3 linked regions of the Homo sapiens genome follow. The protein of the gene in region 1 purifies or fractionates together with the protein of each later gene. This does not show direct contact. Each region holds a gene or a part of one and is shown in the gene's direction. Other genes may lie near its edges.

Region 1 (3,500 bases):
ACTAAAAATACAAAAATTAGCCAGGCGTGGTGGTATGTGCCTGTAGACCCAGCTACTCAGGAGGCTGAGGCAGGACAATCACTTGAACCTGGGAGGCGGAGGTTGCAGTGAGCCGAGATCGTGCCACTGCACTCCAGCCTGGGCAACGGAGTGAGACTCCGTCTCAGAAAAAAAAAAAAAGGGGTAAATATAAGCGAGGTATTTATCTGATTCCTGTGAGCCATTGAAGCAAATGGTCAAACCTGAGGAGGGGGTTGTAGAAACCCCCAACTTATAGCTGATTGGTTAGAAATATGGGAGTCCTGGACTTATGATTGGCATCTGTGTGGAGACTGTCTTATGGAATTGAGCCCTTAACCTGTGGGATCTAATGCTAACTCCGGGTAGATAATGACAGAACTGAATTAGAGGACACATAGCTGATGTTAGAGAATTGGTAAGCATAGGCCGGGCGCAGTGGCTCACGCCTGTAATCCCAGCACTTTGGGAGGTCAAGGTGGGCGGATCACGAGGTCAGGAGATCGAGACCATCCTGGCTAACACAGTGAAACCCCGTCTCTACTAAAAATATAAAAAAAAAATAAATTAGCCAGGTGTGGTGGCAGACACCTGTAGTTCCAGCTACTCGGGAGGCTGAGGCAGGAGAATGGCATGAACCCAGGAGGCGGAGCTTGCAGTGAGCCGAGATTGCGCCACTGCACTCCAGCCTGGGCGACAGAGTGAGACTCCGTCTCAAAAAAAAAAAAAAAAAAAAAAAAAAGAATTGGTAAGCATAGGAGAAACCCACAAGTTTCGTGATGGAAGTGACCTATGGAGTGTTGTGAGAGTATATAAGAGGCATAAACAGTTTGTTTTTTCTCTGTACACTCTGTTTTTCTTTTTCTTTCTTTCTTTCTTTTTTTTTTGAGAGGAGCCTCGCTCTTGTCCCCCAGGTTTGAGTGCAATGGCTTTATCTCGGCTCACTGCAACCTCCACCTCCCAGGTTCAAATGATTCTCCTCCCTCTGCCTCCCAAGTAGCTGGGATTAAGGGCCTGCCACCAAGCCCGGCTAAATTTTGTATTTTTTAGTAGAGACAGGGTTTCACCATGTTGGCCAGGCTGGTCTCGAACTCCTGACCTCAGATGATCCACCTGCCTCAGCCTCCCAAAGTGCTGGGATTTCAGGCGTGAGCCACCGCGCCCGGTCACTGTACACTCTGTTTTTCTTTGGTACATGTAGTCTCTTTTCTCTTTATCATAAGCTTTGTGTTATTTTCTTCTTCATGTTTTTCTCTTCATTGTAGTTCCTTCTGTTACCTACTCTGTGAAGCCTTTCTTGGTTTCTCCTCTTCATCACTACTCTCTGAAGAGCTGGACTATTTCTGTCTCTAATATAGCTTATTATAAATTATCATTATACCTATAGTTCCCTTAACTACATCTTGGCTATAATACCAGAACTTTCCTGTTATTTTTTGTTGTAAGAACAGTCTCATTTTTGGTAATTAAGACTTAGTCTTATGCATTTTAAAAACTTCATGTAAAATTCATTCTTCTTGCAGGGAGTATGATGGGTGAGGGTGTCTGACTCTCCACATATTCTCCCTTTTTCATGTGTTGGGGCAGAGAGTGAAAAAAGGCAGACATATAATTAGGCTGGGTGAAGTCGTCTTTTAGGTTGTGGCTTCCTCTCTAACATGGAGTGTTCATCATGCCTTATTGTGAGGCATTTAAATTTTGTTTCATTGCCATGTGTAGATTCTTCCTGGTTCAATCTGTTGGCAGCTTACTGGCAACTCTCTGAACTAAGAATATATAGTAATAATTAGCATATTTTGTGCTTAATTTAAGCCTGAGGTAAAATTGGGACTACAGGAAATTTTCATTCAGTGTCCCGTGAAATTTATTTTAAAGTCAGCATCTCACAGGAAAATAATCAGTCTTCTAGAAGAGAGTATTATGTCATGTAGATATTACAGAGCACCTTTCAGTGCACAGGTTTCATACTCGTAATGTTAAATCTCTATTTTAAAGTAATACAACATTTAGGGACCTTCATCCTAGCATATCCATAGTCTAGAACCACTTCAGATGTCCTATTTAAATGTAAATTAATTTAAATGTACATTAATGAAACTTAAATAACATTAAAAATTCAGTTCCTGAGTCTCAGTAGCCACATTTGAAGTACTTAATTAGCCACCTGTGGCTAGTGGCTACTATATTGGATAGCACAGACATTTTGATCATTGAAGTAAGTGCTTCTCTAGTGGATAGAGGTAAGAAATTTTTCTTACCATAGGAAAGTCAGATACATGGAGTCAATCATGTACACCAACTAGGTACTCTGTTTCACAAGGTTTTTTTTCTTGCCCATGTGAGGGAAGTTTGAAAGGCAGAAAAGTTGCCACACACCTGTACAAGATACTGCTTTCAAATTCATCTGATATTTAGCTCTTTGAAAGTGTCAGACAACTACTAGTGCAAACATAGGTTTTGCAGCAGGATTAAGACTTCAAATATTTCCACCCAGCAGAGACAGACCGTCTTGTTCATCCTTCCTATTTCCTTTTCTACTGTTCCCTCTTCCTTCAGTCCTTAGGACTGAAGGGTTGGCACAACTTCGGTTGACAGGGTAAGACTTGGGATAAGTTGAAAAGCAAATGTTTGAATATATGTGTTGGGATGTGTGTGTGTGTGTGTGTGTGTGTAGATTTTGAGAGAAGTGGCTTAACTCCTAGAATAATAAATTTCTATTATTTTTTCTACCAAGCCCTTAGGTATCATCTAATTGAATGCCTGCCCACATTTTACATATAAGTAAACTGAGGTTGGAGAAAGTGATTGCCTAAGACCATACAGCTAATGGTAGATCTGGGACTAAAATCTTTGTTCCATGACTCCAACACCAATGGTTTTTCTCCTGAATCATTTACCTTTCCCATTTTAATTCATAATTCACTACTACCTATTGTTACAAATACAATGGCAAGAGTTTAGAGGTATGAATAACTAATTATTGTAATGAATTTCTCATTTAAATAAATGTTGCTTTTATGTATTTTAAAGAATTTGGTAATTGCAATTGTTATAGATTGAAGAAGAAGAGAGGAAAAAAATAGAAGATATGAAAGAAAATGAACGGATAAAAGCCACTAAAGCATTGGAAGCCTGGAAAGAATATCAAAGAAAAGCTGAGGAGCAAAAAAAAATTCAGAGAGAAGAGAAATTATGTCAAAAAGAAAAGCAAATTAAAGAAGAAAGAAAAAAAATAAAATATAAGAGTCTTACTAGAAATTTGGCATCTAGAAATCTTGCTCCAAAAGGTAAAATGATTAAGAATTTCTTGAGTAGTGAGTCCTGTTGGTGAAGTATATATGACGCTTTTCTTTTTTTGTAAATCTATTCACAGCATTAGGTTACTGTTTTGGCACATTGAGAATAAGCAATTCAGTACAAAGACTAAAGTAAAGACATTTCTTCTTTCGGGGATAATGAAGTTTTCTAATAAAATGAGCAAG
Region 2 (3,431 bases), on another chromosome or scaffold:
CAGATTGTCACAGAGCATATGTCCTGCATGCACACACATGTATCCAGGGCACCGCCTGCCTGGCATGTGTTAGTAACTAATTGTTATTCATTTAATGAATTGATCAAAACTTGATATTTTTGTACAAAGAACATTTATCGTTCAGTATCTTCTTTCCTGCATGCTTTTCAGCAAATGAGATAAAAGACCAATTTTTTTTTTTTTTTTTTTTTTTTTTTTTTTTTTTTGAGATTTTTCGCTCTTGTTGCCCAGACCAGAGTGCAGTGGCGTGATCTCAGCTTACAACTTCCACCTCCCAGGTTCAAGCGATTCTCCTGCCTCAGCCTCCCAAGTAGCTGGGATTACAGGCACACTACCACCATGCCTGGCTAATTTTGTATTTTTTAGCAGAGATGAGGTTTCACCATGTTGGCCAGGCTGGTCTCAAAGTCCTGACCACAGGTGATCCACCTGCCTTGGCCTCCCAAAGTGCTGAGATTACAGGCGTGAGCTACTGCACCTGGCCAATAAAAGACACATTTTAATTAAAATAATGACATGTTTCTAAAATATTCTGAAATAGAAGGCACATCACAGAATTTAAATATTTTTCAATAAAATCTGTAATCAAACCATAGTTCAGCTTCCTCTGGGATATTGTGAACTATGTTTAAAATGCGACCGGAATTTTCCACTGCTGTTCATATTTTTAAATGCTTAGAATTAGAAAAATTAGCCAGGCATGGTGGCACATCGGGAGGCTGAGGCAGGAGAATCTGCTTGAACCTGGGAGGCGCAGGTTGCAGTGAGCCAAGATCACACCATTGCACTCTAGCCTGGGCAACAAAAGCAAAACTGCGTCTCAAAAAAAAAAAGAATTAGAAAAATTTTGATGTCTTAATTTCTAATAGGGTTAGACATCAGAAGTAGTAAAATTTCTAGCTACTGCCTGCATGCAAACCACTCTTAATAAATTCCCAGTTTATCAAAAAATAGTTTGGGAAATGAAAAACAGCAAATTTCTTGAGCAGTCAGGGCAACACTGTATATTCCATAGTGAAGTGCTGTATATTCCATAATGAGTTTGCACTTTTCAAATAACTAAAACGCATTTAGCACTGAAACTGGGCTAAGCAGAATTTATTTTTTCTTTGGTTCAGAATTTCAGAATCGTGGACTACCTCCAGGTCTTTCTGAACATCAGATGCCGTTCTAGATATAAAACAGAGACCCGGCTGGGCGTGGTGGCTCATGCCTGTAATCCGAGCAATTTGGAAGGCTGAGGCTGGGAGGGGGGTGGGGATCACCTGAGGTCAGAAGTTCAAGACCAGCCTGGCCAACATGGCGAAACCCTGTCTCTACTAAAAATACAAATATTAGCCGGGCATGGTGGCAGGTTCCTGTAATCCCAGGTACTCGGGAGGCCGAGACAGGAGAATCGCTTGAACCCGTGAGGCGGAGGTTGCAGTGAGCCGAGATTGGGCCACTACACTACAGCCTGGGCAAAAGAGTGAAACTCCATCTCAAAAAAAAAAAAAAAAGCAGAGACCCAGTGTTTGAGCAATGGGTGGTTTGGATTTAGACGCACAAGAGATGTGGATGGATTTAGACACAGCTCCCCGCTGTGGCCCGGCTGTAACTGTGTTCTGTTTCCTCCCCAGCCCAGCGACTTCTCCGTGTCCCTTAAAGCGTCAGGGAAGAACAAACACTTCAAGGTGCAGCTCGTGGACAATGTCTACTGCATTGGGCAGCGGCGCTTCCACACCATGGACGAGCTGGTGGAACACTACAAAAAGGCGCCCATCTTCACCAGCGAGCACGGGGAGAAGCTCTACCTCGTCAGGGCCCTGCAGTGACGGCGCCCCGGCCCCACACTCGCCTCCCGGGCCCCACGGTGGAGCTGCCCGCCCGGCCTTGTGGCAGAGGCTCCTCCCGCGGGGACGGCCCCGACGGCTTCTCTGCGAGTCTCTCTTTATGTTCAGGTCGCTTGGTCGGTTCGTCTCCCATTTGCCATCCAGGCCTCACACCCACACTCGAGCCCACCCGGCCGGCCAGCTTTAGAGGAGGGGAGGAGCAGGGCGAGTTCACATTATTCCTTTTCCATCGGAAGTGGCGCTCGTGCATTCAACTCGTTCCCGCTCATGGAACCCCTCTTTAAAAAGACGCAGGGCACCTGTGAGCGCAGGAGCGAGCCTAAGGCCACCCAGCGGCAGCGCCCGTGTCCTGGGCACTCAGCGTGCTGGGCAGAGCAGGTGCGATGGCCCCAGTCCTAGCAGCCCTCGCCCATGTCCTGTGCCCTTACATGGCTCCCGGACTGTGCAGGGAGCCGATACGTTTGCTGATAGCAATACTGGAACCACCGGGTGCGATGGCAGTGAGGAGACTGCCCAGTGCCTTTGGGGCTGTGCTTGCAATAAAGAATTTCCTGGAAAGGCAGTCTGCAAAAGAGGGAACCGGTGACTCAGAAAGACAGATGTTTTGGTAATTTACCCCAAATGTGCCATCCACATAGTGCTTTTTCCTCTTGCCCTTCGGCTTGTTTGAATCTCACAATTATGTATTTAATTCTCAAAGAAATATGTATCTGTAGCCGTTTGTTGACACTAATACAGATGATTAAGGAAAACAGCTGATCTTTGGGGAAGGGAGCTACCAACACTTTATACACACACACACGTGCACACACACACACACACACACTATATATATATATATTATTTACAGGGAAATTTTTCAGGGTTTACAAAAGAGTATGTGATTGGTAGTAAGAGACACACAGAATGTTTATGAAGAAATTGCATTTTCTTTTTCCTTTACATTTGAACTTCTTTATAGTTTAAATATAACGTCTTGAGATGGCACATTCCTACGATTGAAGAAGGGGTCTTGAGATCCCCTAAACTTGCATACCCAGTTTTTTGGATATTGTAATAAAAAAAAGTATTATGACAAGGCTCTGTGTGTATTTATCTTTGGGAAAACTCAGACTCAATCATGGGAGAGTAATTACTGAAGCATTCACTCATTGCGGAGTGGAAATCATTTTTAGAGAAGAGCTTAACATTTATTACTTGTGTGTTTTCATTTTCTACCCCCACATTTTTGTATATTGAAATAATGAGTTTTAATTAGTGAAACCCCAAGGGAACCCAGAATCTCAAGCTTGGTCTGAACTTTGCTCTTTGGAAAATATTTGTTTAGAAATATGTTGCTGAACTCTTGGCAGCCAGCGCTCTCACACCATGTGTCCCCCACGACTAACTCTCGATTTGTCCTCTTGATCGGGAGCATTTATATTGATGTGCCAGGCCCTGGGGGTGCAGAGTCACATGACTTGGCATTTGTGCCCTCCTAGGCCAATCACGTATCAAGCGCTCCCTCTGCACCATGCACTGCGCCCCCATTTGTTCCTCATCACAGCCCCATGAGGTGGGACCTGCTATCATCCCCAT
Region 3 (3,500 bases), on another chromosome or scaffold:
TTTTTCTTTTCCTGGCATATTTTTTCCTCTAACAAGTCAGAGATTTGTTGCATGTTACTTGCTGCAATAGAGCAAATAAGGAATACTACTTTGCCTCTGTCTCATTACAGCTGTCCCCAATCTCTTCATGCTGGAAACAGTGGATTCTGTGAAGTTGGCAGACAAAGTGAACAGTTCCTGGCAGAGAAAAGGTTCTCCTGAAAGGTTAAAGGTTATGGTCCAGATTAACACCAGCGGAGAAGAGAGTAAGTAACCAGACCTGAATTGTAGATTTTTCTTCCTTTAGGATGGTTGAAGCTTAGGGAGAATGGGTGGGCCCAAGTGTCTGATGGATAAGGTTATAGAAACAAATCACAGGATCACAGGCCTCTAAGTTGGCTGTTTTATGTGTGATCTAGGTAGCATAATGGCATGCAAAGCAGTCTATGTATCATTCTTTACTACATCATGGTTCATTATATCTTAATTTTAGGGGAAGAAGAATGGATGGGGAGTTCAAGAAGGGGATTGTGACTTCGTTTTGTATTTTTGTTTTTTTTTTGAGATGGAGTCTTGCTATGTCGCCCAGGCTGGAGTGCAATGGTGCGATCTCGGCTCACTGCAACCTCCGCCTCCCGGGTTGAAGCAATTCTCCCACCTCAGCCTCCCAAGTAGCTGGGACTACAGGCGTGCACCACCACGCCTGGCTAATTTTTGTATTTGTAATAGCGATGGGGTTTCACCATATTGGCCAGACTGCTCTCGAGCTCATGACCTCTCAAGTGATCCACCCATCTCGGCCTCCCAAAGTGCTGGGATTACAGGCGTGAGCCACCACACTCAGCCTTTTTTTTTTTTTTTTTTGAGACAGAGCCTCACTCTGTCGCCAGGCTGGAGTGCAGTGGCACGATCTCAGCTCACTGCAACCTCCGCCTCCTGGGTTGAAGCGATTCTCCTGCCTCAGCCTCCCGAGTAGCTGGGATTACAGGCACGCGCTACCACGCCCAGCTAATATTTGTATTTTTAGTAGAGACGGAGTTTCGCCATATTGGTCAGGCTGGTCTTGAACTCTTGACCTCAGGTGATCCACCCACCTCAGCCTCCCAAAGTGCTGAGATTAAAGACATGAGCCACTGCACCCGGCCTGGGATTGTGTCTTTCATCTGGAAACCCCCAAAGGTCACCATCACTCCTACAAGGAGTATTTTAAATTTTTAAGACCTAAGATTATATAAATACTCTTAGATCTTAAAAAAATTACTTGATGTTGCATTGGGAGAGAATGGAAGATAATTACTGTGAGTGGGCCAGGTGCGGTGGCTTACACCTGTAATCCCAGCACTTGGGAAGGCTGAGGCAGGTGGATCACCTGAGGTCAGAAATTCGATACCAGCCTAGCCAACATGATGAAACTTCATCTCTACCATACATACAAAAATTAGCCAGGCATGATGGTGTGCACCCATAGCCCCAGCTGCTCGGGATGCTGAGGCAGGAGGATCCCTCGAACCCAGGAGGTGAATATTGCAGTGATCCGAGATCGCGCCACTGCACTCCAGCCTGGGCGACAGAGTTAGACTCCATCTCAAAAAAAAATAAATAAATAAAAAATTATGGTGAGCACCAGTCAATGAATATCTTTATGGGGCTTGGATTAACAGTGTAACATAGTGTGAATAGAAGCATGGGCTTTGAAATCAGACAGACCTTGGGTTTCAGCTACACTACTTTCCAGTATTGTAACCTTGGATAAGTTACCTAATCTCTCTGTACTTCAGTTTCCTTTTTTGGCAATGGTATCATGAGAATGCTTACTTCAGAGGGTGTGGTTAGGACTGAATATGATAATCCAGGCAACATTGTTAGCACAGAACCCTACACATGTTGTTAGCTATTCGTTAAGAATAAATGTATACAGATCAGGCATTTGATTGCAACCATCAAAGCACCAGTATTCACCAAATCTTAGTATGCAGGAACACAGTAGAGGCATCTGTTTTCTAGATAACGTCCTAGAGTCAGACTACCTGGGTTTAAATCCCAATTATCAATAGAAATCTGAAATCAACTATAGGTCAAGTCTTTATTGTATCATTTCTTGATAATTAGCTATAATATGCCCTATTTAAAGACTGAAGTAAATGTTACTAGTATCTCCGCCTAATAAATGGGGGCAAGACAATATCAATAGCTCTTATAACTGTATAACAAATAATTGCTTGCTGCAGATTTCTCTTCCAGTTGTTAATTAGAAAGTTCAGTTAAACTTTGCTAATATATAGCCAAAAATATTTAACATGTACTTTATACTAAATTTTTTGCAACTCCATTAAATTAATAAAACTATAAAAATTCTTGATTTAGAAAAGTAATTCTCAGGTTCATCTGGCATTTTGGCAATGCAAATCTTCCTGGTATCCCAAAAAAGCAAGATTTTTTCTTTTCCATGTCTCCTAGCTGTTTTCAGCTGAAATCCTGAGATGGAGGAAAGAGAATCCAACTGATAGTTCTTTTCTTGAGAAATTTAGAACCTGACCAGAAGCAGAGCAACATAGAAAACCCCAAGTATAAAGTTACTCTTTAGGACTTGAGGCTCTTTCAAGAGGTTCTCTTGTTGGGGGTCACCTCTTCTGTCGTAAGGAAGGGAGGAAAATGGAGCCTTCCTCTGGCCATTTACCCTTGCAGTATACCTGTTTTCTGTTTCTTTTCTTGAAGGTAAACATGGCCTTCCACCTTCAGAGACCATAGCCATCGTGGAGCACATAAACGCCAAGTGTCCTAACCTGGAGTTTGTGGGGCTGATGACCATAGGAAGCTTTGGGCATGATCTTAGTCAAGGACCAAATCCAGACTTCCAGGTACTGGGGGGTCGGGGAGATTGCTCGTGTGCTAAAGAAGCAGGGTGCTGGAGTGCTATTGCAGGGCTGGCTGCAGTGGGGATTGCAGAGTCATCCCAGACACTGCCTGTTGAGTGTTCTAGCCCTCTTTTGAACTCTTCTCAGAAGGAAAAGGGAAGAACAGGTTTCCAAAGCCCCACAAACCTTTTTCAACTCAACTTGAACTTGGCTAAAACATAGTCTTTAGAGAATATGAGATTTCTTCCTCTCCAGTGACTAATAGTTTTCTCGAAAGTGGGATAGTTTGCAAAAAACCCTTTCAGTAACGTCTGGCAATTTTGGCAGGCCTTGAAATCATAAGGAATACATAACCGTTGTCAGAGAAGTTCAGATTCAGACACTTTTGGGCATCGTTAGAGAAGGCAGGAGTAAAATAGGTGTCATCTCTTTCTGTCAGCTGTTATTGTCCCTCCGGGAGGAGCTGTGTAAAAAGCTGAACATCCCTGCTGACCAGGTTGAGCTGAGCATGGGCATGTCCGCGGATTTCCAGCATGCGGTGAGTGTCCTGCCAGTGCCCTGTCTGCCTCGAGGGGTGGGGGTAGGGGGTCTGAGAGGCTGACACAAGAGCAGATCTTTGCTGTAGAAGCCTTGGAAATGCCTTGGGATGGCAGTAAGGTACCCAGT

Evidence for each region. Proteins that work in one complex are often made in the same cells at the same time.
Region 2: the proteins of DNAAF4 (region 1) and NCK2 purify together in Homo sapiens (affinity purification with mass spectrometry; 3 studies listed by BioGRID and IntAct, with this or other methods). This does not show direct contact.
Region 3: the proteins of DNAAF4 (region 1) and PLPBP purify together in Homo sapiens (affinity purification with mass spectrometry; one large-scale study listed by BioGRID and IntAct). This does not show direct contact.

The regions. Positions count from the first base shown.
Region 1 is NC_000015.10:55,466,735-55,470,234, reverse strand, and holds part of DNAAF4 (dynein axonemal assembly factor 4), read left to right. Parts: intron 1-3,073; coding exon 3,074-3,305; intron 3,306-3,500.
Region 2 is NC_000002.12:105,891,342-105,894,772, forward strand, and holds the end of NCK2 (cytoplasmic protein NCK2), read left to right. Parts: intron 1-1,640; coding exon 1,641-1,835; 3' UTR 1,836-2,931; downstream 2,932-3,431. UniProt on the Homo sapiens protein: Adapter protein which associates with tyrosine-phosphorylated growth factor receptors or their cellular substrates. Maintains low levels of EIF2S1 phosphorylation by promoting its dephosphorylation by PP1.
Region 3 is NC_000008.11:37,772,645-37,776,144, forward strand, and holds part of PLPBP (pyridoxal phosphate homeostasis protein), read left to right. Parts: intron 1-110; coding exon 111-245; intron 246-2,664; coding exon of another isoform or gene 2,665-2,694; coding exon 2,695-2,837; intron 2,838-3,273; coding exon 3,274-3,372; intron 3,373-3,500. UniProt on the Homo sapiens protein: Pyridoxal 5'-phosphate (PLP)-binding protein, which may be involved in intracellular homeostatic regulation of pyridoxal 5'-phosphate (PLP), the active form of vitamin B6.